Regions from separate parts of the Homo sapiens genome. Here regions 2, 3, 4 and 5 are each linked to region 1. The links come from fine-mapping of genetic effects on gene expression. A gene starts in region 1. Each other region holds a variant in brackets. All regions are shown on one strand. Distances are from middle to middle.

Region 1 (5,140 bases):
AAATGTATCTAATTGTTCTGGATATAATCATGTATCCCCCTCCTTTACTGATGCCTCATCTTTTTCCTTCCAACATGCAAGACAGCATCTTTATTGTCTCACAATTATGGGGCTGTTACTTCTCAACTCTTCTGAGAGATCTTGGGATGGGAATAGCAAGATCCCTAACACATAGAGCCACAGACTGGGAGTCACTTGTTGAGAGTACTGAGTTGAAGGTTTTCCATATAGAGAGCTAACTCAGGATCCCTATCCTACTACCCTCATGATTACATTTATAAAGACTGGTTATGAAAAGTTAAAAACTCTCAGACTTGACTTTTACCTAAGAAGATAAATCTAGACATGAGAAAGCCAAATGCAACAAACAAACAAACAAACAACAAACAACAAAAGAATCACCACGAAACACATTGCATATTTAAATTCAAATGATTATTCCCTCTTTTGGATTAACTTACTCTGCACATAGTATATGTCCAGTAAATGTTTGTGGTTTATGTTTAGCCCATAAAAGTGCTTTGAAGGCAGATATCTAATTCACTGTTGTAGCCCAATGTCTTTCAAAGGGTTATCATGGCATATAGGATATGCTTAATAAATTATTATTAAATGAATTGAAGGTTAAATGCACATCTTTATCATTGAAGGTGTGGGAGGTGGATGAAAAAGATTCAAGTTTTCCATATTGGGCGGTTTGTAGGTGGCCATACTCCAGAGCTATAAGCCCGAAGTTTGCCCCATTTCTCCAAGTTCCAGTAGAAAACAGCCAAATGTCAGCCAGAAGAACAAGGGCAAGGAAGAGAGCAGTTGGGAACTCTATCTCCTGGAAATTTGCATCTTCACAGAAAGGCAGAGTGAATTACCTTAGTTCATCTTATTTCCTTTACTCCGAAGACCTATGTCCACTATGGTTGGCGTATGTGTTAAAGAAACAATTCCACCTGGAAGTGGACTACTGGGAAGTAGACTGGGAACTGGGAAGAGATGCTGACATGCGTTCTATTCCCTTTTTGTGGGGGTCCTATATATGGAACTGGTAGGTTGTGGTGTCAGCAGATGTGTATTCATTACAAATCCCCTTACTGTCATGTTACTTGATCCTGAGCCTTCAATATTGCTGTATTTGACCCAGAACAATTCCTGCTTTCCTATCTCCCTGTGACACGTTAACCTACTTACACTCACCTGGGTGTTGATTGCTGATTTTTTTGACTCTTTGAAGCTGATTTCTATAAAGAATGTGGTCTTTTTTTTACTCTGTCCTTCTCTGGTTGATATCAGTGGTCTGACATTTGGTGCCCTGAACTTCTGTTGCATCCCTGATGCTCTCCTGAATTCTCCTTATGCTACTTATTATGCCACAGGATGGATGGAATAGAAGATAGCCATTCTAATAAAGTAATTGTCATCATCATCATTGCTCCTTGTCCATATGCAGAGGTTTATAATTTCCAATATATTTACCATATTTATGGTCATATTTATTTGTGACCCATATTTTTTATAGGTGAAGAAAGGGGGGTGTTCAGAGAGGTTAACTGCTTGAGGATCCGTAGTGATTGTGACAAGACTCAAAACTTGGGCTTCTGAGTTCAGCTAGGGATGAAGAAGATGGAGGTGTAACATGTATTGCTAACCATGGCAGAGATTCCTGGTCCTGGAATCAGTTTGGATCTTGGTCTTTCCTCTGTGTAACTGTGACTTTAGGTGGGAGTTGTAATATATAATTTGGGGTCTTATTTCTTTTATCTGTAAGATTATCTTTCATGTCTTCTTTCATTCTAAGCCGAGATTCTAAGACATCTTTGTGAATTAGAACATAGGATACTTTTCATATTTTACAGATGGACAAAATGAGGCGCAGAGGGGCTGACATATCCAGCAACTCACAGTAAGGGGTAAAGTTTGGACTAAAGGCTGTCTCGACTCCTAGCACAGGGCTCATTCTGCCATATCCCATTGGCTTATCGCTACTGGGGGTTCCTCTGTGAAGTGCTATTTTAGAGGCCACCAGTTATCAAATATATATTTTTAAATTTTGAAAAAAGTTGCCTGCCTCATTATGTATAATTGTCTCCAGTGTTCTTTTTTTATGATGATGGTCACTGTGAGTAATAAGACTTGAATTAATCCTTCTCTGTAAAGGTTTGCTCAGTTTTCTCTCTGTCTCAGTTAAAGGGGTCTTGCCATACTACTCCCCGCATAGAGTTGTTGTGAGAACTAAGGAGAGCACTCAGAACAATGCCTGCAACATAACAATCACCCCCCCCCCGTGGATGTGAGCGCTGTCTCAGTAGCGGGTGTGCCCCACGGATGATACTACTGAGCTGGCAGGTGCATGGTCCTGTCATAGGTGTCCGCTTAGAGAAGTATAACCTCCTGTGTAAGGACACTAAATGCCAGGGCCTGATATATTATCCACTTTGATGTTGACATGGGCAGAGAATAGGCAGAAGAGCAGGCAAATTTTTGGGCAGGTATGGGGACTTTGAAAATTGAGCCTTGACAATATTTGCATCTACTCTGAGAAGAAAAAACCTCTCACCCTCCTCTGATAGCCTGCGTCCTCTACTCTGGCCTAGCTTCTGCGCTTGGGGCAGCTGGAGGGACAAACATATCCTACAGGACCTTCCAGAGCAACCCAACAGAGATAGCCCTTGAAGTTTTGGGACCCATCTTGTCCACCAGAGAGATGAATGGAGACCACATGGTTCTAGGATCTTCGGTGACTGACAAGAAGGCCATCATCTTGGTTACCATTTTACTCCTTTTACGCCTGGTAGCAATAGCAGGCAATGGCTTCATCACTGCTGCTCTGGGCGTGGAGTGGGTGCTACGGAGAATGTTGTTGCCTTGTGATAAGTTATTGGTTAGCCTAGGGGCCTCTCGCTTCTGTCTGCAGTCAGTGGTAATGGGTAAGACCATTTATGTTTTCTTGCATCCGATGGCCTTCCCATACAACCCTGTACTGCAGTTTCTAGCTTTCCAGTGGGACTTCCTGAATGCTGCCACCTTATGGTCCTCTACCTGGCTCAGTGTCTTCTATTGTGTGAAAATTGCTACCTTCACCCACCCTGTCTTCTTCTGGCTAAAGCACAAGTTGTCTGGGTGGCTACCATGGATGCTCTTCAGCTCTGTAGGGCTCTCCAGCTTCACCACCATTCTATTTTTCATAGGCAACCACAGAATGTATCAGAACTATTTAAGGAACCATCTACAACCTTGGAATGTCACTGGCGATAGCATACGGAGCTACTGTGAGAAATTCTATCTCTTCCCTCTAAAAATGATTACTTGGACAATGCCCACTGCTGTCTTTTTCATTTGCATGATTTTGCTCATCACATCTCTGGGAAGACACAGGAAGAAGGCTCTCCTTACAACCTCAGGATTCCGAGAGCCCAGTGTGCAGGCACACATAAAGGCTCTGCTGGCTCTCCTCTCTTTTGCCATGCTCTTCATCTCATATTTCCTGTCACTGGTGTTCAGTGCTGCAGGTATTTTTCCACCTCTGGACTTTAAATTCTGGGTGTGGGAGTCAGTGATTTATCTGTGTGCAGCAGTTCACCCCATCATTCTGCTCTTCAGCAACTGCAGGCTGAGAGCTGTGCTGAAGAGTCGTCGTTCCTCAAGGTGTGGGACACCTTGAGCCACAGCTGATGAAAAACTTCAAGGAGATTCTTGTGGAGAAGGCATGGACTCAAAGGGACATAGCTTCTCTCTTTGCCACATTGAATGTTTTCTCTCTGTTGCTACAGTTAATGATTAGAAAAATAACTTCAATGAAATAGGATACAAGGTGAGAGTAAAGGTCCTGAAATATGGGCTAGTGTCATGTTATGTACTCACCAAGTGCATAGTTCATGTGGCCATGGTTCCTGTGGGACCTGATGTGGTCAAAGAATCCAGAAGCCTTTATTTTTCCTGTGATCGATCTCTTCGTATTTAAAATAATCATTCTGGGAACTGGATGCAAAGATCCTCAAACTTCATGCAATATTTTATCTGTTCAATCGAACTGGGGCATGTTTTTGGAACTGCAGTTTTCTCAGGCTTTGTCCTGTGAACCACCTTTCCCTTCTCATCAATTCAAAGTTTTCTGGCCATCTAATGTGGTGCCTCTCTCCTTCTTTCCATGGAAGAGTTTCTGGTGTCTAAACCTTCTACACAGAGCATAGTGTAATTGGTGCATGTGTGTGGCAGTGTGTGTTGCCAGGGATGTGTGTATTCTCCGATGACCTTTGGAGATCCCTCTGAGTGCCAGGGGTCTATGATTTGTATGTGGTTCATGTTCTCTATAATAGCCCAGCCTGTTAGTCTCCTCTGTATTTGTTAAGGTCTGTGGGTTCAGATGTAACTTCTTTTGATTGATATTGGGACCTATTGTAATTCCCCTACTGACATGGGGAAGTTTATCTGTATCTGTCTAAGACCTAAGATTTAAGAAGAAAAAGCCTTTGTGTTTGGTGAACCATGTTCAGACTGCCTTTCTGCTTTTCCCAGCTCCTCTCAAACGTTCTTTAAGTTCAGTTACTCCCTGAATCATTCAAACGAGACAACCCTCAAGTTTCCTCCATTCACTTTAAAATCTCTCCGCCTCCTTTCCTGGTTTTTACCTCCACCACACTCTACATTAGAGGACTGGTCTCTGTTTTTGGCTTTTCAAGGCTGACATCTGTGATCCTAGCCCTGCTCCTGCCTGTTTTCTCTCTGCTGCTAGGTCAAGGATTTCTACTTCTACACAAATCTTCCAACTTTCCCTCTTTATTGTCCTTCCCTTCTTCAACAAATGTGCCTCTAAACTTTTTTCCTGAAAACAATCCCCTTATCTGTCTCGCTCCTCCCCCTCCCTGTACCCCTGTGCTGCCAATGAGTCACTTGCAGGGTCTTCCCGTGTGCCTTCCAATCCTCTCCTGCTTCCCTGTTCTGCTGAAACATGTTTGTTTCTACAGGGACACACACGATCTCTTTGTCACTAAATGTGATATTGTCCCCAGCCCTTATCCTCCCATGTCTCTGTTGTATTTGCCTCTGTTGATAACAAATGATTTCCTTAAAATAAACTGATGAAAAATATTTTTACAAAAGTACTGCTGATCTTGGTGAAAGATTTTTTTAAAAGGGAAACTAAACCTCA
Region 2 (5,000 bases), 35 kb before region 1:
TAGTCTATTAGCTCTAATTACAGGCTACTCTGTAGGAGAACAGAGAACGGAGCCAGGACTGTAGGACCCAGAGGGAAAGAAAGCAAGTAACCCTGACCCCAGAAACAGGGGCTGGATTGAAGTCTCAAGTACTGGGGTAAGGAAGGAAACCCTGAGAGAAGGGGTTCCAGAGCCAGAGTTGTAGATGCTCCAGTAACTTAGGCAGCCCCCTAAGTGGTTCTGTGACCAGCTGTGCTGCTGGCAGAAAGGGTGCTGTGAATTGTAAAATATATATTTGGTCTTTGTCCACATTTCCTGGCAAACAACCCCTAAAGCCCTCAAAATCCCTGAAGTGACAAATGTCTTTTTATATGCTAGTGAGCTGACTGCCGGGGATGGGAACTAGACTGGGGTGGGGGAGGCCTGGGTGGCAGAAGGCAACCTTGTGATTGGAGTTGGGACTTTCGGCCCCACCCCCAACTTCCAGGGAAGGTAGAGAGGTTGAAGGTTGAGCTGATAACCAGTGGGCAATGATCTAATTAATCACGCCTATGTAATGAAGTCTCCATAAAAGCCCAGAAGGATGGGGTTGGGAGGGCTTCTGGATGGCCATACATGATTAGGTCCCTGCAGGGTGGCTCGCCTCCTTCACATATACCTTGCCCCATGCAGCTATTCCATCTGGTGTTCATGGTACCATTTGTAATAACCGTTATAGTAAGCCAGTAAATCCAAGTCAATGTTTCCCTGAGTTCTGTGAGCCATCCTAGCAAACTAATTGAACCCGAGGAGGAGGGTCAGGTAAACCTGATTACAGCCGATGGAACAGAAGTATAGGTGACAACATGTTACTTGTGATTGTTGTCTAGAGGAGGGCAGTCTTGTGGGGCTGAGCCCTCAACCTGAGGCTATCTCCAGGTAGATAGTGTAAGAACTGAATAAGATTAGAGGACACTCAGCTACTGTCCACTGAAGAATCTGCCAGAGAGAACTGACTGCAGGCGGGAGGAATCCCTACACGCATTTTGGTGACCACAGGTCACCGAAGTGATTTGTGTTGAGAGTGCAGTAGGAAAAAACTGAGTTTGGTTTTTTGTACATCATAAGAGCTGCTCTCTGCATTTGAGTCTGAATATGCTCTCTCAGACCCACCTCACAACCTGTTCACTGAGTCTTAGGAACATCCAAGGAAGGAAGGGAACTGGAACAAGCTCTGACACTTTCAAACAGCTGGAATGCATGGTGTGCACGCAGTCAGCCTGAGGAGGTGTGGAGGATGAGCTAAGGGCTCAGAAACCTTTAGGGGAGCAGCTTTTAACTTCGGAGGAGTCAAAGACCCTTTGAAGAATTTGATGAAAGCTTTGGCTGGTCTCTCCAGAAAAAAAAATGCCCGCTTACATATACAGAATTTAGAGTACACTTTCATGGGGTTTCCCCACCCCCTGAAACCTATCAATGCAACTTCATTGGGATGAATGGATCTCAGATTGAGGATGCTTTTCTGCCTTTTCTATCCCTCCCCAAGCAAAGCACTGGTCTCAGCCTTCAACCATCCCCAGCATGGTGCATTCTCTCCCCGGGTATGTGAGCTCCTCTCCCCCTCACAAGTATCAGCTTGTATTCACAATATTCCCAAGTATTCACTGGAGGAGCCAGGCCATTCAAGCGTTCATCTTGAGGTGAAGTCTGACCCCCCCACCCCTTGTCCCATTGAGGAGGCTCTGACTCAGCCTCCTCTCCCCCTCCCTGAGGAGACACTTCCAGTTTTTCCTGCTCTTTTCTCTGTTCCTCCACCCACCTCTCCACCCCATTTCCCACTGGCCTTCAGGAGTTTTCCAAGATCCTTCCCTCTTCCGACACTTACCCCATCTTTTGGGGGATCCAGCAGCCAGCCCAGCTCTCCCTGTGCCTTGCTTGTGTCCATCAGAGTAACTGAAAGTGGGGAGAAAAGAAGTCTGTCACCTCTGGGGGAGGAGGTGCCCCTGCAGCCCACATTAATCATTCTGGGGCCTCAGCCCCAGGCTGCAACATCCTGTTCCTAAAAGCTGTGACTTCCTGAGGCTTAGGGGAGAAAAAGGGCTCAGGACTGAGGAGTGAAGAGCTCCAGGGATTTCACTCTTCTTTGTGTGTGTGAAGGAAGGCAGGTAGAGTGGGACAAGGGTTGGGGCGCTGGGTCTTTGACCAAAGTCAATGCAAGAAGAGCAGCCCCACGAGACGCTCAGTTACCCAGGCTGCTGCGTCCTGGGACACCCATCAGCTGCAGGATTGGAACGCGTGGAGGGCAGGAGGAGCTCACCTCTGCTAGCCAGGAGTGGGCAGGGTGGACCGGGGACCTCAGAAGGGGTTTCCTGGGTAGGGAGGCTCACCTCCACTGTCCGAAGCCTGCTTTGGCCTGACCTGGCCAGTGATCAGAGCCGTGAAGTGGGGATAAGAGGCACAGCTACCTGCCTGGGAAGTGGGGGGGAGTAAGGCCGGAGAGGGTGTTCCAACTTTCACATGGAATATTCGACTCGGACAACTGGGAACCCCTGTGGCGTCAGTCCTAACCCTTCTCCCGGAGGCAGCTCCCTCTGTCCCTGGCCTAGGTTGGCAGGAGGCGACTTCCCACCTTCAACTTCCAAGGGCTCAGATCTCTGGGGTGGGCACCTGAAGCTGGGACTGTCTGGGAATGCAGGCAGGGGTGCGGGTGCAGGTGCTACTTCCTGGCAAGGGTCCGGAATTCCCTCCCCACTCCCAGGAGCAGATTGCTGGCCTGCGGGAGTGGGGGTGACTGACCCGGGAGAGCAGCCGCTTGGGGTTAAAGACCAAAGATGGGCCTGGCCAGTCGATAGCCTGGCGGTCGGGCACAGCGAGAGAGCTGGCGAGGGTCTCGGGGAACATGGCCCCTAGGAATGCCGGCTTCTGCAGGGGGGTGCTGGCCGGGCCCCGGGAAGGGGCGGGGCGCGGGGGTTGGGGGCGCGGGGGCGGGGGTCGGTACCTTCCTTGGCGCG[C/A]GCCCCCGGGGGCAGCGGGGCGCAGAGCAGCAGCACCAGCCCTAGCCCCAGGGGCCAGCGCCGCTCCATAGCTCCGGGCCGGGACCTGGGACAGTGGCCCGGATGGCAGCGCCAGGTTGCAAGGGACTAGGAGAGCCGGGCGGGCCGGGCGGGGGCGGGGGGCGGGGCCAGCGCCGGGGGCGGAGTCCCGGCCTCACCTGGTTCACCTCCTTAAAGGGACAGTAGGGCAGGAAAGAAACTTGCTAGACTGGTAATCAAATTCAAGAACCGGAGGCGTCTTGACCCGAATGAGACTGCGGGCGCCGCCTAGTAGGTGGGATTAAGAATTGACGAACCTTTTCCCAATTCTAATCCTAAACTCAACCCAATCTTGATCCAGCTTTTAACCTAATTCTACCTCTGACTTGAATTACACTCCTATATTCCTCTTTCTGTCTTTGTGCAGGCCCCAGAGCTGGGTAATAGGGCCGGGGAAGGCAAGGGGTAAGAGTCATATCTTCACCCTCTAGCAGGGGAGGCTTAGATGACCACAATGCAAGGTGGGGTACAACCTGCAGTGAAGCATCTGGAGATTAGAAGAGGAAGCAAGCCCAGTCATCGGGGCACATTAGTTGAGTCTTCAGGGAGAGCTGGTGTGACCTGGGTTTTCAGTGGCAGAGATTGGGAAAGGCACCAGCAAGGGCCTGAAGGCAGGGAGCCTCAAGGTGCGCCCAGGGAGTGGTGAATGGACCAGTTTGACTGCTGGGGCGCAGGATTTGTCTTGGGAATCAGGGCAGAAAGGCAGGTGTGGGCCAGGGCTGGGTAAACAAGAAAAGGAGTTTGAACCTTGACATGCACTTACACAGCAGACATGAATATCTGGTTAAGGTTCCAGCCACAGGTGGCAGGGAAGGATATTTTAACCCATCTTAGTGGTGTCAAACCACGTGCCCTCTCACTTTCTTGCGGACTTCCTTATATTCTTTTTCTTTTTTGAGATGGAGTCTCGCTCTGTGGCCCAGGCTGCAGTGCAGTGGTGCAATCTTGGCTCACTGCAACCTCCGCCTCCCTGGTTCAAACGATCCTCCTGCCTCAGCCTCCCGAGTAACTGGGATCACAAGCGTCAAGCGTGCACCACCACACCCAGCTAATTTTTCTATTTTTAGTAGAGACGGGGTTTCACCATGTTGGCCAGCCTGGTGTCGAACTCCTGACCTTAGGTGATCCCTCCTGATCTCAAGTGATCTCCCTGCCTCTGCCTCCCAAAGTCCTGGAATTACAGGCCTGAGTTACTGCGCTCTGCCGAGACTTTCTTATATTCTATTTAGTAAATGTTTGTTCAGTTTCTGCTATGCATGCAGGAAGCTCTAGAAGCACCTAAGAACAGAAGGACAATGTCTTGCCCTATATAAGCTATTAATTTGGGGATGCTGGGGGTTGAGACATAAATAATTGCACAAATGATTGAAATGGCGGGCAGGAGTGGACCCCAGGCAAGGTACACACAGGGATCACAGTAGCTCAAAGGGGAGTGATGCATTTACTAAAGAGGCTGGGGGTCCACTCCTGGCCCCTCCTTCTTTCGCTCCATCCCATCTGGGTAAATTGTTCATAATTTTTCTATCATTTACATTGTTGCACATTTCGGTACTGTGAATGAAGGGAGGTGGTGGATTATAGGTGCTTTTTCTCATTTTCAAAATGTAATGCTTCTCAGGTTTTTTGTTTTTTTTTTTTGCTTTCTTATGCAGATACGTATATGACAAACACGGCCCATCAGTTCTTGGCTCAGACTATCCTTATTTGCATAAATAAATGTAATTCATGTACATTGGTTAGGAAATTCATGTTGAACATACAGAAACAAAATGGGAAGTAGAACCCTCTGCCCTCCAACACTCTAATTTCTGTTCCCCAAGTTAACCACCATCAACTGTTTCTTGTAAGTCCTCCCAGGATTGCTTCCTCGCTGTGTACACACCATCGTGTATTTTTCCCTCCCTCTCTCCCTCTACTCCCACACTTACATGCTTTTAAAATGTGTATACAGAG
Region 3 (5,140 bases), 53 kb after region 1:
ATTACTTGCTCTTGGTGTGTTTCTTACTCATTCTTCCCCACAGCTACTTCTCTGCAACCACAGCTCCCTCCTCTACTAAGTTCCCTGTGGAATACATATTCTAAAAACATTTTATTTCAACTTTTAATTGTCCTTCTAGTTCCTAGCATAATGAGCCCTTCTGTAACTCTTTTATATCTTTTACTGCCCTTCAATGCTGTGGCATCACTGAGGACTTTTAGTAGAAGTTGGGATTCAGAAACATTTACTTTTCTGACCTGGTGAGAAGGGACTGAAAGTAATTGAGATAGGAAAGAGAAACTAAAATTTTAGAACCTGGTCTCCTTCCTAAAGGAAGAAAATGAAAGCACCTTCACCCCTCCTCCCACACACCTAGTTTTAGTGACAGTGACATCTAGTTTTAGAGTGGTGAGGACACATCGCACATTAGAATCATCACATCCATGGCCTGGGAGCCATTGAGAAGTCTCAAGTTCACAGTCATTAAAATAGTTCTGCAGGTTCTTTGATGGTCTCCCACATCACATTCCTGTTGTGTTTCCTTTGCATATTTTCATATTACTAGAAGTTTTTTCTTTATCAGCTTTCCTAATACTGATCTCCCGGTTCTTGGCCATCTTCCACAAAGTTTTAATTTCTTCACTGGAATTACTAGAAGGAGCAGAGGAAACAATGGGTCAGGATGAGGTTTTATTCCCAATATTTAACTATTTATTTCTATAGTAATAGAACATGAGTCTTTGGTAAAATGGGGAGAAAAAAGAGAGACATCAGTGTGTAACCCACTAAATTTTTTTTATAACAATTGGCCAATATTGCAAGATAAAGGTTTACTTACCTGGAAGATTTGTCATTGTAATGACAATGGACTAGGGAACTGTTGTTTAACTTCATGCTCTTCCCCTTTGGGCAAGACCTGAAGAATCTTGGGTTTATCTTTGCTGCTTCCACTGCCCAGGTAAGCTCAGGACCTCACAGGGCCTGAAGCTTTCCCCACCTCAAGGTCTGTGGATGGAGAAAACTGCTAGAACTTCTGACTGAGAGTTGTAGCCAAAGGTTAAGGAGGAGAGCAGCAGTAAAAAGAAAACCAAGGGCACCATGAGGGGGAAGAAGAAGAAAATGACATCTGAGAGGTGGGACCCCTGATGCACTTCAAAGGCAGACTCGGTATGAGCTGACACAGATGACTCCAGTGTAAAGGAAAAGAACTGTTGGGAACCATCCTCCACACTACCTCCTACTCTCATCTAATAAGAATGTTTCCCTGCTGGTAAAAAAGAAAAATGCATCCTTCTTACTTTTCCAAGCACTAAGGTTACAGAAAATATGTAACTAGATTTTTTTTTTTACAAAGTAGGTTAGAAAATAGTAGGAAATATAATATATATACAGTTGGATGTATATAAAGATTGAAAAGTAGAAAAAGAACAGGCAAGATGACCATAAAATGTCAGTGGGTTAATCTCTGGGTGATAGGATTATAGATATTTTTGTTTTCTTATTTTTAGCTTATCAATATTGATATGGCTTGAATTTGTGTCCCTGCCCAAATCTCATGTCAAACTGTAATCCCCAGTGTTGGAGGAGGGGCCTGGTGGGAGGTGATTGGATCATGGGAGCAGATTTCCCTCTTGTTGTTTTCCAATAGTGAGTTAAGTTCTCACAAGATCTGGTTATTTGAAAGTGTGTGGCACCTCCCCGCTGTCTCTCTTCCTCCTGCTCTGGCCGTGTAAGATGTGCCTGCTTCCACTTCGCCTTCCACCATGATTATAAGTTTCCTGAGGCCTCCTCTCCATGCTTCCTGAACAGTCTGTGGAACTGTGAGTCAATTAAACCTCTTTTCTTAATAAATTACCCAGTCTCAGGTAGTTCTTTATAACAATGAGAGAACAAACTGTTACAAATATTTTTAAATGTTTATAATAAACACATATTTTTTCTCTCATAGGAATCCAAATGAAATTTAAAAAATTCACATATCTGATATAGACGTATCGCATTGAGATAGTGATATTAGGAAATGAATTTGCTGTCTTAATGCCTGGCACTACTGAATAGCCTTTGGGCAACATAAGTGAGCATTCAAGGAAAGATACAATTAAAACTGTATCTCAGCAAAGTAGATATAACTATAGGTTTTCGACTATTTATACCATAAAAAATAAATCTGGAAATATTCTATGGTGGCAAACACCCTGGACTAGAGGCAGGACAATGGGTTTTACTCCGGCTTTGGTACAAATTGCTCTATGACTTTTGACAAGTCACCTAATCTCCCTGGGTCTTAGTTTCTTTGTTTGTGAAACCAAATGGTGGAATTGGACCTCAAGGTCCTGCAGAAGTCTGTGTTTTTCAGTGTGTGCATTACAACATTTTCCTTTCATTCTAG[G/T]TACTAGATTCTGAGGTCTGAGACTAAAGTCATTCCATCATGAGTTCCAAACTGGACTTGAGAGGGGAAGAATCATTTCCTTTGAGATTGACCAATACCAGGAGTTTCACTAAAGAAGGCAATGAAAGACCCACAGCCTTGGACATAATTGATTTCCTGTGATATCTGTGTGGGCCCAGGCATGCTGCTCACCTGGGTCTTTCCCCTCTTTCACTCCTTTGGAACTGCCCCACCACTAACCACTTTCCTACTCTCTCCTTCCCCACCCCAGTATCTCCTTGCCTCAAGAGTTTCCTGTTACTAGCAATAATTTAGTTCACTCCCAGGGAACTACTATTTCTGGTTCTCAGTTACTAACCTTTCCATTCAGTTCTTTCCATTCCATTTTTACCAGAATTAACGTTTCCTCATCTTTCCCAGTGAATGTAAAAGGTACCTTCTGGGAAGCATTTTACCGGAACTGATGACTGCTATGCTTGACAGCAGCTTCAACAGCCTCGGATACAACTCATCATGAATTAGCTCTGGCATGACTGAGTTAGAATACTGTTCTGTTTCCTATCTCTACATGTAGGAAAAATTTAAAGTGGCATTTCTATGCTTTGGTCTTTTCTCATAAATGACTTAGGGGAAAACACTTAATGAGGATGAGTAACTAAAATTCAATGAATACTAAAAGCTTTATAAGAATCATCTAATTGAAACTTTACATAATTTCCTTATTATGTATTAACATTGAACGGGCATTATGCATTCCATTTCTAGAAAAGAAGTCTTTCCTTAATAAATTACAAGTGCAAACATGAAGTCCAGGACAATTTTTACTTCAAGATCAACTTGTCTATATGCTAGGATAATGAATTTGAATACTCTTTACTGATGTTCCCTGAAGACGTAGCTATTTTGTTTTCTATAATGATATTATTTTCTTGAGTCTCCATTCTGTTGGGTACTGTAGAAAGAAGACAAAAAGCAAACAATATAATATACCAATTAAAGGTATCTTAGTTTTTTTACAGTATAAATGGTCTCTGTTAACTTAAAATGATCTTTCCAGGTAAATATTTAATTAATTTGAAGTTCTACCTTATATCAGAGTGGTATATTTCTTTTTCTTCCTTATCAACAGGGCTTCTGGGCATAAGACAAAACCTGATAGTACTGACTTGTGGGGCTTTGAATGGATATGTAGAATCACTCTTGTTTTGTGCTGGTCCTGGTGCTGGCTTCTGCAGCTGGACAACCACTCGAATCTTTGCTTATTCACGTGGCAGGTTTCTGTTGAGACATAGTTTATGTGGATCCAACCTGTGTCATCCACTGTTGGAGGCTGTGGCCAAGGAACCCATGGACTGTTTGTTGTCTTGGCTTTGTCAAGGCTTGGTGGCCATCTTCTTGTTGAAATGGTCCCACTTCTGGTTTTCCAATGCTGTGATTCCCCCAAACACACACACATCACCTCCCAGACATGACTGATTTCTTCTGGAGCCCTGAGTTGGGAAGTCCATTCTGTAGCTCTCAGTGATATGGCCACATTTTCTCCACCAAGCTGATCCCCTCTGGCATGTTCTTTGGTTGAGCTCCCAGCTGCTTCCTGTATCTGCACCTCCCATTCGAGACAAACAGGAACTTGAGGCATGAATTCCATATTCTAGGGAGCCAGGAGCATGCTCAGATTGGCTTGCCTGCCATCCTCTTTCACTGCTGCTTTTCTATCGTCCCTCAACATCTTTGGAGTTTCTAGGTCACCCTGAACAACAGTCTCTTGGTAGGGCTCTAAATGGGGATCAGGAAAGTATTTCCACCTTTGGCCTCTTCTTATCCTATCTCTTCATCCTCAGGGCCTCAGTCCCTTGGAGGGCTGTTTAGAACACATATATTTGAATGTCTGCTTCTTCTACCTTTCTCTTCCTTTATTTATTCCCAAGTCTGTGTCAGAAAGAGAAGGTTTTGCCCTCTCATGAAATGGAAGATTTCCCTTATGTCATATCCTGAGTTCCCTAGTTTATCAAAATCTCAGTGTTCAAATCCAAAGGTTGTGGGTTTTGATGTAGGTGCCTCAGGGCTTCAGAAATTTGGAATTAATAAAGAAAATATAGATTGATCTGTTTTTCTCTAAGTGTTATCCTTGTGCCTGCAATTCTCCATATGGTGTCCATCTTGGACAGAGAATTGGGCATCTCTTCTCTTCATTATTCAGCTCGTCCTGCTGAAACGCAGCCAGGACAGGGCACACCGCAGCACCAAGCAGCTACAAGGTAATCAGATTCTGAGCACTAAACCCAAGGCACATGGAATATTTTCCTTTTCTTTTTCTTATTTTATTTTATTTTATTTTATTTTATTTTATTTTATTTTTTTGAGATAGAGTCTTACTCTGTCAACCAGGCTGGAATGCAGTGATACAATATTGGCTCACTGCAGCCTCCACCTCCTGGGTTCAAGTGATTTTCCTGCCTCAGCCTCCAAGTAGTTGGGACTACAGGCACCCGCCACCATGCCTGGATAATTTGTGTATATTTGGTAGAGATGGGGTTTCATCATGTTGGCCATGCTGGTCTTGAACTCCTGACCTCAGGTGATCGGCCCACCTTGGCCTCCCAAAGTGCTAGGATTACAGGCTTGAGCCACCGCACCTGGCCGATGTGGAATATTTTTCTAAAGCAGCCTATTTGATTCTTTTTGAAAGGCCCTTCTCAGTTTCCCCAGCCTGATACGGGCTCGGCTGTAAAGATGGGACAGAATCTGTGT
Region 4 (5,097 bases), 26 kb before region 1:
TCCTAACAACTTTTTAATTGATTAAAAGTATGCAGAGGCGGTCTGTAAGCAGTGCCACAGGTCCCAATTATACACCCTCCCCCTTAAACCCTGCATGTCCTCCCTTCTTCCAGTCAGTTTGCTAAGAGGAAGACACCCGATACTGTTTAGGAATCTGTCTTCTTGCTAGAAATAGAACTGTTTTGAGATAGAGGCGGTTGGAAGTTTTCTCTGAAGTGTCAAAAGCAAAGTTATATTTTAGAAGATTTTAATATTGTCACTTCATAGCCAAGTGATCTTGGGCAAATCACCTAGCTGTTTTGAGACTCCGCTTCCTCATCTGCAAAATGGGGGAAATGATGATAATGTTGTTGGTCATAGTATATGAGAAAAGTACAAATATGAGAAAGTGTACAAGCAAAAGCTTCTGGTGGCACCATGCAATTTAAGGATACATGTTTTTTATTTTTGTGTCCTCCTGTACAGGTTTATTTGCAAGATGGGTTTGAGGGAATTAAGGATAAAGTCTGCTGAAAGTAGCACCAGCCTCTGGATTAAAAGGGATGTTTGGATGAAGCTTCAATCTCAAGAAGAGGCAAGAGAAAACTAAAGAAAAAGGTAAGAGAGCCGGGTGTGGTGGCGGGCGCCTATAATCCCAGCTACTCAGGAGGCTGAGGCAGGAGAATTGCTTGAACCCAGGAGGCGGAGGTTGCAGTGAGCTGAGATTGTGCCACTGCACTCCAGCCTGGGCAACGAGCAAAACTCCATCTCAAAAAAAAAAAAAAAAGATGCTAAGAGAGATCACTTTCGACCCATTTACATTATGATGCAATATGAAAATAAAATAAATACCACTCTAACATTTTCAGGACATATGGCAATTCTCCCTGTGCTGATTTTTTTTAAATGTATCTCTGCAGTATTAACATCCTCTAAATCATTCTCTTTGTTTTAGAGACAAGAAGGTAGTTGACAAGCTGTGAACCTGCATTGCATTCTAGTGATGGGACACGTGGAAGGGGAAGCTGAAGTTGAAGGGTGGATGGTAGCAGCCACAGGGAGTGAGATGGGCTCGTTTCTGGAGCTGTTGGGAGAGAAAAAGGGAGTCAAACGGGAATTCACACAGGGTTGTGCATTATATCCAAGTGTGTATTCAGATACAAGCCTTTATCTCAATACCTTCCTTACCCCCATTCCGCACATATCTCATACCAAAGTACAAATAAAACCATTCCCAATTGTTCTAATATTTCATTTGATTTCTTGAGTCATGAAATGAAAATGTGGAGGGGTTAGTCATGTGAAGTGGCTGTGACTCAAATATCTTACGATGATATTTGTGCGCGTCTCATGAGAAATCATTGTGTTTCCACCTGAACTTGTTTGCTTGACTGCCTGAGAAGATAGTGTTGCTAACCTGAGAAGTTAATACGCTGCCTTAATGCTTGGGCTGGTAGAAGTGAGGGAGGGAAAGGAAGAGAACAAATGTGTCTCAGTGAACTGGGGCATGACAGAAATTTAATAAGAACAGGTTGAGACAAGTGTTAAATACTGGAATCCCCCGGGAGCACAGCGATAGCTTGGTCCTTGTCAAAAAGTGTACTGGTTGGAGCTCAGGAGGGAAAGAGAAAGTGATAAATCAGCCATGTCTTGAAGTCCATTTTAATTTAGCTAGCCTGCGAGAAGAGAGGGCTGAAATAAACTATCAGCTCTGTCTTCTGCATTAAGCAAGCATAATTTATTTGAAAAACATTCAGTTTTATTTCTAGCTAGGCTAGGAGTTCTTGTAACTTCTACAGAGGGTTGGGAAGAAGATCGGCATAACCCATGCTTACTATTTGAAGTTACTGGTTCTGTTGTCAGGAGGTAATATTATATTGTTGTCTTGTAAAAGAAGTATTTGATAAGTATGGGACCTCTTAATTGGGCACAGATTGGATTTCTTTTACATTTTGCTTTGAAGAAGTTATTTATAAAGGGATCGTAATAGGGTAATTTATATCTTTTTCTAACAAGTTCTAGTTTGAAAGTATTATAAATCTACTTACCCAGACACAGACACATTTGAACATATAGATAACAACCACCTCTGTTAAGAAATTAATGTACACATTTCCAAATCTATCCCTGAGTTTAGGCGATCCAGGCCATGGGTCATAAACTATGAGAGCCACCTAGTGGGAAAATTTGGTAATTGCACCTATATCTTCAAATTCTGGGTGTGAGAGCCACAGATAATTTCTGTTTATAAAATCTTAGAATACCATGGGAATATTTATCAACATGATATGAAAGTGACAGCGATTTTTATATATTCCTACTATTATAAAGATGGTAGGCCCTTAGGCTAGGAAGTAGCTTTCTTAACTTGACCTAGTCATCACAGTAATGATAGACTTTTGACCAGGTGAGGAAGGGAGGGTGGGGTGTGCCACCATGTTGCCTCACTTTTGGGCTTTCTGCTTTGGATACATATGAAAAAACCAGAAAC[C/G]AAGTCACCTAGGAGGCGCTGGCTGGGAAAAAAATGGTGCCCACTGTTTGTAGTGTGTCTGTTAGGTTGTAAGCTAGAGAGAGATGCTTACACTCTAACTTTTTTTTTTCTGAAGAGATGAGCTCTCACTATGTTGGCAGACTGGTCTTGAACTCCTGGCTTTAAGCAATCCTTTTTTTTTTTTTTTTTTGAGACGGAGTTTCACTCTTGTTGCCCAGGCTGAAGTGCAATGGCACCGTCTCGGCTCACCGAAACCTCCGCCTCCCAGGTTCAAGCAATTCTCCTGCCTCAGCCTCCCAAGTAGCTGGGATTACAGGCATGTGCCACCATGCCTGGCTACCTTTTTGTATTTTTAGTAGAGACAGGGTTTCTCTATGTTGGTCAGGCTGGTCTGGTCAGGCTGGTCTATGAACTGCCGACCTCAGGTGATCCGCCCGCCTCGGCCTCCCAAAGTGCTGGGATTACAGGTGTGAGCCACCGCACCTGGCTCTGATTAAGTCTTCTTACACTGAAGCTGCTGTGTTGTCTGAACAGAGCCTCAATTAAGAAGTGACTGAAGCTTTTCCCCTCCCTCCCTCTCTTCCTTTCTTCCTTCCTTTCTTCTTTGTTTCAACAGTTCTGGGGAAGTACTAAATATTAGACCAAAATTAAAACCTGATACCCACCGTACTGAGTGTTTGCTTAGAAAGTTCTTGTTTGTTTTTGAGAAGCACTAGGAGTTAATGGAATGGGTATTTAGTGGCCTTTGGATTCTGTAGACTCCTAGCTCTCTGCCTCCTATGTGTAAGGCCTTGGACATTTCTCTTAACCTCTCTGAGACTGAGCTTCTTCACATGCAAATGGACTCATTTACCTTCCAGGAGCACCTCTGTGGGAGGGGGATGCACCATGTGAAAGAGGTAAGCCCTAAGGTGGAGGCAGAAGCAAGTGGCCAAGGGAATACAGGAGGCTAATTTTGACAGGAACTGTATGGGAAAAGGTGGCCTTTGTGTTGAGCCTAGTAGAATGACTTCAATAGGCAGTTTTTATTCATTCATTCAACAAAAATTTATTGAGATCTTATTATGAGTCAGGCACTGTTCTAAGTGCTGGGGATATACCAGCAAACAACAAAATAGAAAAAAAAAAAAAAAACCCAAACCCCACCCTCCCTGAGTGTACATTCTAGGGGGAGGAGCCAGACAGTACATAAAAAAATAACAAAATGCATTCTTCAGATGGTGAGACACACTGGGAGAAAAATTAAAACAGGGTTAGGGGAATAGGAATCACATAAGGAGGGCTCTATTATACAGATATGGTAACTTTTGAGCAAAGAATTGAAGGAGGAAAAGAATGCGCTACAAAAGTCATCAGAGGGAAGAGCAATCCAGACCAAGGAAACAGCCCTAAAGTCCAGGGCAGGCATGCATGGGGTTCATGGAAGGACAGGGAGGCCAGAGCTTTAGGAGGGAGATGGTCATAGGGGTTGGATGGGGAGCAGCACACCTAAGGCCTCCCAGGCTATTTCACAGATTTTTGCTTTGACTTTGAGTGAGATGGAAGCCATTAGAGGGAGTCCAGTGAAAGGAGATGCATATTCTCTGACTTACCTTTGAAGAGATCAACCTGCCCAGCGTGCAGAACACAGATGGGGCAAGGCAGGGGAGGGCTGAGGGCAGAAGCATGGGTAGGTTAGGAGGCTGTTGTCTTGGTCTAAATAAGAGATGAGAGGGCTTGAAGCGGGGTTTCCAGGACTGTGCAGGGGCTGGGGAGAGTCAGCTGTGTGACAAATGTTTCAGGCCCACACAAGCATCAGCAGCTCGATGCCTGTACGAAATGGGAAAATGGCTTTTGTCCAAGGAATGGCGTGCAGGGTGGTGTGACTGGCTGAGTTGGGCTAAAGAGGGGGAACTGGGAGATGGGCTAAGGCTGGAGTCAGCCTCGGTGACCAACTACACTGAACTTTCTTTCTTTCTTTTTTTTTTTTTTTGAACTTTCTTCCCTATCTAACCTGGAACCAGTAAAATTTTGAATATGGGAGACACGTGCTCAGAGGAGCATTTTGGGCTCTGGTGGCTGAATGGGGGAAGAGCTGGAAGAGGCAGCGACTGGAATCAGAGAGATAATGATCCAGGGAAGAAACAGTAAGAGCTCAAACTTGGGCAATGAGTGGATAGAGGGAGGCGATGAGTGACATTTCACTTGTAGTATGACAGGGTATGTTGGCTGCTTAGATATAGAGGTGAGGGAAATTAACCAATAACCATATTCAGATTGGTAGTTATATTTTTGGTTCAAAAAAACCTTACCTCAGTGTGAAAGTAGGGGTGCTGGAAATAAATTTCTGACCTCTGGGAAAATGCTTTAGAGACAATGGTGACGAATTAGGATTTTGTTTGGCCGATGGGAGACTTTGAGTGATGGGGTTGGCAATGGAGACTGACAGGCAGGGAACCAGAAAAGCCTGGATGAGGATTGTTGAGAAAAGGTCAGGAAGCAGGCAGAGTCATTCAGATGCTCGGGAGGACAGCATTGGTTAAAAACGGCCAAGATACGGAAGGGGCATTTATGAAGATTTGCAGTGGGCTGTGGGATGGAATGCATCCTCCATCTCTGTCCCCCAGCAATGCCTTCTGTAAAAACGA
Region 5 (5,140 bases), 810 kb before region 1:
CACTGTGTATTTCCTATAATAAACTTCAGCGATTGGCTTTCTTGTCATCATGCTGGGCTCTCAAGACAAAGATAACCAAGAGGCAGCCAAGTAGAGAGTTATGCATGAATACGTTACCTTAGGGGAGGATAGCAACAGCATTGAATAGCATTCACTCCAAATTTGTGTTCTGTCCTCCTTAGACCAGGCCACCAAAATAAAATCCTATCACATTTCCTGTAAATGTTGAACGCCATCATGTTCTCCATGGTGTTTCGGTTGATGAATGAACAGAGTAAGACTCGGTACAAAGGGAGGGGAGCACCCTCTATGCCTAGGTACACACCATACGGAATGTATCGCTAGGGAAGGTGCTGGTGAGCTGGCTCCTGGGAAAGGTGTCAAGGGGAAGAGGGGGCAGAGGTACCTAGAAGGAAGACCTCAGACAACATGGCTTGTCTACAGAGTTGGAAAGTTCTGCCAGTAGTTAGAAGACAGTAAGTGGAACAGTGAAAATCCTTTCCTAGGAGAAACCAAACATTTACATTGACCACAAATCTGTATGAACCAACAGAAAATGAGCAAAACATATGACCATACATTTAATAGAATAAACATATATGACTAATAAACATATAGAGATATTTCACTTCATTGATGATCAGGATAATATGAAGCAAGACACAATGATACATAGTTTTATATCCACTTGATTAGCAAAATATAAAAAGTTTAGAAATATAAAATGTTAGCGAGGGTATGGATTCATAGGATTACTTATAAATTACTGATGGGAGCATAAGTACTATCAACCATTTGGAAACAGTTCAGCATTATCTCGTAGTTGAAGATTCCTATATCCCATAACTCAGCAATTCCACTCCTAGGTTTACATCAGGAGAAGCTCTTGCATACACATATCAGAAGACATAAATAAAAAAGTGTTCTTCACAGCACCAAACAGTAGAAAAACATGGCACCAAGCCACATATGCACTGAGAAGAGTGAATGAATAAACTGTGACATATTCATATGAGTCAAAATGAATGAACTATAGTGAAGAGCAAGGTTATAGGTGAATCTTAGCAATATAATAGCAAATGTAAAAACTAAGTCTAATGAGATTATGCAAAGCATAATGTGCTTTTCATAAAGCTAAAAACAAGTCAAGAAAATAATTTTCAGGACTAAAATATATTAGAACAAATTATATTGAAAGGAAAGCAAAGATGAGTTGTATGCTGGAGCCTACTTTATCAGCTCATGGGAGCTGACTGTATACATTTTTCCCAACTCCAGTTTTAGTGACATCATTTTGTTAGCTTGAAATTGGCCATAGTGAGGGTATTTACACTACAGAAATTAGCAAACACAGCAAATTACGGTTTGCTTTATTTTCCTCCAGACTTAGCTGTCAACCCTTTACCCTTTACCAACACACTACTGGCAGGGAATAATAATGACCCAAGTTCAGGATTTTTATAAGGCTGGGGCATGGCAGGAAATAGAATGAGAGAGAACTATATGGCTATACATTGAAATATTATCAAGGTCTATCTTGCATAATGTTGAGGAGGAGAAGTTTTACAAGTTCCTATTATGTTTTTTAAAAATATTCATTGACAAGCAATGCCTGTGTGTTATGAACCACAGGTTAAGATAAATAAAATTGAATGCATATAGCATCAAAAAGAAGAGAAAACAAATAAATGAATAGATTAGAGTTCTTACAAGAAAAGGATCAAGGGCATTTTATAGTCAAAACCAGGAGTGAAATAGCAGTGGCTTAACTGCTACCATCCTCATATAGATATCGGCTGCTGAATTAATCACAGCGGACAACCTACCACCCAACAGACCTGGACCCTTGTCAACCCTTTGCAACACAGAACAGGGGTTTAGACAATAAGGGTGAACGTGAAAGCGTGGAGATGACACCTGGCCCCTGACCAAGGTGGAACTGACTGGAACAAGATGGGAGCCAATTCTGCAGTGAACACGCTGCTGCTTTTCGTCTCCGCTATGACCGTGTGTTGCTGGTGGTTAAATACCCCACCTGGGTTCAGTCACCTCAGACTGTGCCATTGCCACTGATCTCAGGACCCACTTTAGTTGTAGCCTTTTACTCTGTTAGCGTTTTCAGCCTGGAGAACAGAGCTAGTAAAATACTTATAAAATATTCCACTGCTTCACTAACGGCATGGAAAAGACAAGAGCTTTTAAGGCTCTGGCATGAAACAGGGAGACAGTGGTTACATTCCTATTTCACGCAGTCACTATTTCCGTCTACGTTAAGCTGAGGAGTGTAGTGTTTCGGTGACATTTAGCATGGAACGCTGCTGGGTTCAGACCTGACATTCCCAAACCAGCTGACTGTCAAGGACACAGCCTACTGCCTACCTATATTACCTTAGGAAACGAGACAACAGCATTGAACAGCATTCAGTCCATATTTGTGTTCTGTCTTCCTTGGACAAGTACCAACAAAATAAAATCCTATCACATTTCCTGTAAATTTTGAATGACATAAATTTTTGATTAGCAATTCTTTTTGAAGTGTTGAACTTTTTGTTCTGATTTTATATTCTACTCTCTGTGCTTTGTTGTATTTAAAATCAAGTTCACCTTTCAGAGGCAGTGATGGGTGAGGTAAGAGACAGACTCTTACATCCTCCTCCCCAACACACACACACACACACACA[T/C]ACACACACACACACACACACACACGGAGGCACTGTTTTTCCCAGTAATGGAGAAGCCATGGGAAGAATTTCAGAGGTTTCAAGGGAGCTAGGGTCGTCTAATTCCTCTATATCCTTGGATATCCCCATTCTTAATGTCAAAAATAATCTCTCGAACTGGTTTCCCAGAGTCTCAACCCATTTGCTATAGTACATGCACCATCTCAGGTGTCCAAAGATGAATATTTGATAAGCTACTTCTCAACTTCATACCTCTGCTGCTGTTTTTCCATTCTGGAATGTGGAAAGCAGTGTGACTCCTATTAACTGACCAGTAGTCAATTTTAACTACCCATAAATATGTGAGTGTCTTTTATCTGTAATCTCCTATCTGGTGCCATTTTTGAAAACCAGTTAAGACTCTTTTATCCTAAAAAATGAACTATGTCTAATTTCTTGAAAGTAATTATTGATGAAATACTCCCTGGAGAGTCTGAAGCCCCTGATATTGCATATTTAATTGTTATCCTCCTTTTAATAAAAGGTATAGGAAGAAATTTTAAATATTATTCCTAAATACCTTACATCAAGATGAGCTAGAGTTAATTAAGTGGGACGAGGGATAATGAATTCAAGGGCATTTAAGAAAGATTAAAGAACCAGTGCAAAATGTTTTAATCAGGAAAGAAATTAGTGTGTTTAATGACAGGAAAGAAGTCAGCAGAGTGACAGGAGCAGGGGGAGGAGGTGGTTGAGTACAGGGCAAAATTGAAGAAGGCAGGAAGGCACCAGACCACTCAGAACCTTACTGGTCAAGGTAAATGATACAGAATCCAACATAAAGCTTAATAGGAGACACTGAGGTTTTCAACATTTGACTTCTTTAGTAATCAGATTCGTGGCTGTGTGTGTATCTGTGTATTTAATCACCCTGGTCACAAAGTGAAGAAATAATGGACCATGCAGGGAAGGCAAAATGTTACCTCTACCCTCTTGCAGTTTTTCGGCTGGTCCTGAGAATGGAAGATTAACAGGAAGGAAAGCATACACATGTATTTAATACAAGTTTTACATCACATGAAAGCCCCCATAATTAAAGGAAGAACTGAATGTGCAGTTAGAGTTGAACATTCATATATTGAATTGGGCAAAGGGTCATACATTGTGGAAAGGTGAAAAAGTAAAGGGGCTTAGGCTAGGGTTGCTGGTTGAATGGCAAAGTGACTAGGAAGGTGAGGATTAGTTTAACAAGCTTTTTTTGTTACAGATTCCTTGGCCTCAACATCATCCCATTCTATCTTGGATGTTAAGAATATTCTTTTTTCCTGGTATAGATAAGACATCTTTTATATGGGAAGCTTATTCCATTTTTCAAGAAGAAAAGGGGAAGGGTCAGAGTACTCCTCTTATACTTGCTATTGTCTTTAATGCCTCTAGCTCAAAATATTCCTTATGCCAAAGTGGCATATTTTGGGCAGAGGGTTGGGAGGCTTATGCTGCCACCCTCCAGCAGTGTGAACAGAGTTGATGCGGAGGAAAAACTTAGCTCAGGCAAGCAGTAGTTTAGCTCAGATAATGATGATGGTGTTAGAAATATGGGGAAAATGAGACATTTAAAAGGAAGTAAATCAAAGGACTTGGCAATTGATTAGACATGAGCAGCAATATGCAGGGGGTGGTGGGTGGTGATTAAGAGAGACTGCTACACACAGACAAATAAGAAGGACCAAGTGGGAAGAAGATCAAGATTTACTTTGAGATTGGGAGTGCCTTAGGGACAGTAATCTAACCAGGAATATGCAGAGAGCAGTTGGATGTACAAGTCATGGACTCAGAAAATGGATCTGGATAAGAAGCACACCTTTGGGACATTTAGCATCACTGGAAGAATGAAAGTGCCTCCAATCCCTTGATATACAGTTTACAATGAAAAGATCAGAGAGCATAGGATAGCGGTTTAGGGAGCACACCTGCCTTGGGGGACTATAAAAGGTTGAGGGAGGCAAAATGCACTGATAAACCACCATCGGCATTAGACTAATGGCTGAATAATTGTGTAAGTAATTGCTAGTAACAATGCTGTGGAGTATGTGGCAGGTAGCACATCAAGTGCTGCTTTTTTCTTAATTTCGCTCTGATACCTGGAATGCCTTTTTGCTGCCTCGCTGCCGGGCGGGCCACTCCCGACTCAGGCAGGCCGAGGCAGAGCTCCGCGGGCATTGGATGAATTCGCTCCTTTGACCACTAGAGGGTGATGTGGATCTTTCTATAAAATATCTGCCGCTCATCAAGTGGGGACTCACAGCTTCACCGGATATTTCAGATGAGATGTTTAGGTACTGACTGACCAAAAAAATTGCAGATATCCTGGGAGGCCAATTGGTCTTTAAAATGGCAGGATCTAATCTTAACATTTTGTAATAACCCTTAGCGTTTACCCATATCTGGCACCTGTAGTTGTGTGATTTCTACACAGTTGA

Which allele goes with the higher level. Positions count from the first base shown, and alleles are read on the strand shown. Sizes are in standard deviations (SD) of each study's normalised expression. Not every link is listed here.
In carriers of allele T in region 3, the expression in sun-exposed skin of the gene that starts at base 2,696 in region 1 tends to be higher than with G alone (large effect, 1.1 SD a copy in GTEx).

The links.
Region 2: its variant is fine-mapped to the expression of TAS2R60 in whole blood (TOPMed, PIP 0.98).
Region 3: its variant is fine-mapped to the expression of TAS2R60 in sun-exposed skin (GTEx, PIP above 0.99).
Region 4: its variant is fine-mapped to the expression of TAS2R60 in whole blood (TOPMed, PIP above 0.99).
Region 5: its variant is fine-mapped to the expression of TAS2R60 in neutrophils (BLUEPRINT, PIP 0.95).

What each region holds. Positions count from the first base shown.
Region 1 is chr7:143,440,758-143,445,897 of GRCh38, forward strand. TAS2R60 (taste 2 receptor member 60) reads left to right here and starts at 2,696. Exons shown (of 1, transcript NM_177437.1): 1 at 2,696-3,652. The coding sequence starts at 2,696. The coding sequence ends at 3,652. All of the region lies in intron 2 of EPHA1-AS1 (EPHA1 antisense RNA 1), which reads left to right.
Region 2 is chr7:143,405,768-143,410,767 of GRCh38, forward strand. It overlaps EPHA1 (EPH receptor A1), which reads right to left and starts at 3,089. Exons shown (of 18, transcript NM_005232.5): 1 at 2,957-3,089; 2 at 1,844-1,911. The coding sequence starts at 3,038. It overlaps EPHA1-AS1 (EPHA1 antisense RNA 1), which reads left to right and starts at 2,046. Exons shown (of 5, transcript NR_033897.1): 1 at 2,046-2,119. RefSeq lists an enhancer at 3,161-3,773. The variant C/A (reference allele first, on the strand shown) is at 2,970.
Region 3 is chr7:143,493,577-143,498,716 of GRCh38, forward strand. The region is part of intron 2 of EPHA1-AS1 (EPHA1 antisense RNA 1); the gene reads left to right. LOC105375547 (a long non-coding RNA gene) reads left to right here. Exons shown (of 2, transcript XR_928075.3): 1 at 1-1,820; 2 at 2,390-3,196. Among named protein-coding and RNA genes, the nearest start is that of TAS2R41, 18 kb to the left of the region's middle. The variant G/T (reference allele first, on the strand shown) is at 2,390.
Region 4 is chr7:143,414,603-143,419,699 of GRCh38, forward strand. EPHA1-AS1 (EPHA1 antisense RNA 1) reads left to right here. Exons shown (of 5, transcript NR_033897.1): 2 at 466-597. Among named protein-coding and RNA genes, the nearest start is that of EPHA1, 8.3 kb to the left of the region's middle. The variant C/G (reference allele first, on the strand shown) is at 2,471.
Region 5 is chr7:142,627,794-142,632,933 of GRCh38, forward strand. It overlaps TRB. Among named protein-coding and RNA genes, the nearest start is that of PRSS1, 120 kb to the right of the region's middle. RefSeq lists an enhancer at 4,760-5,054. The variant T/C (reference allele first, on the strand shown) is at 2,682.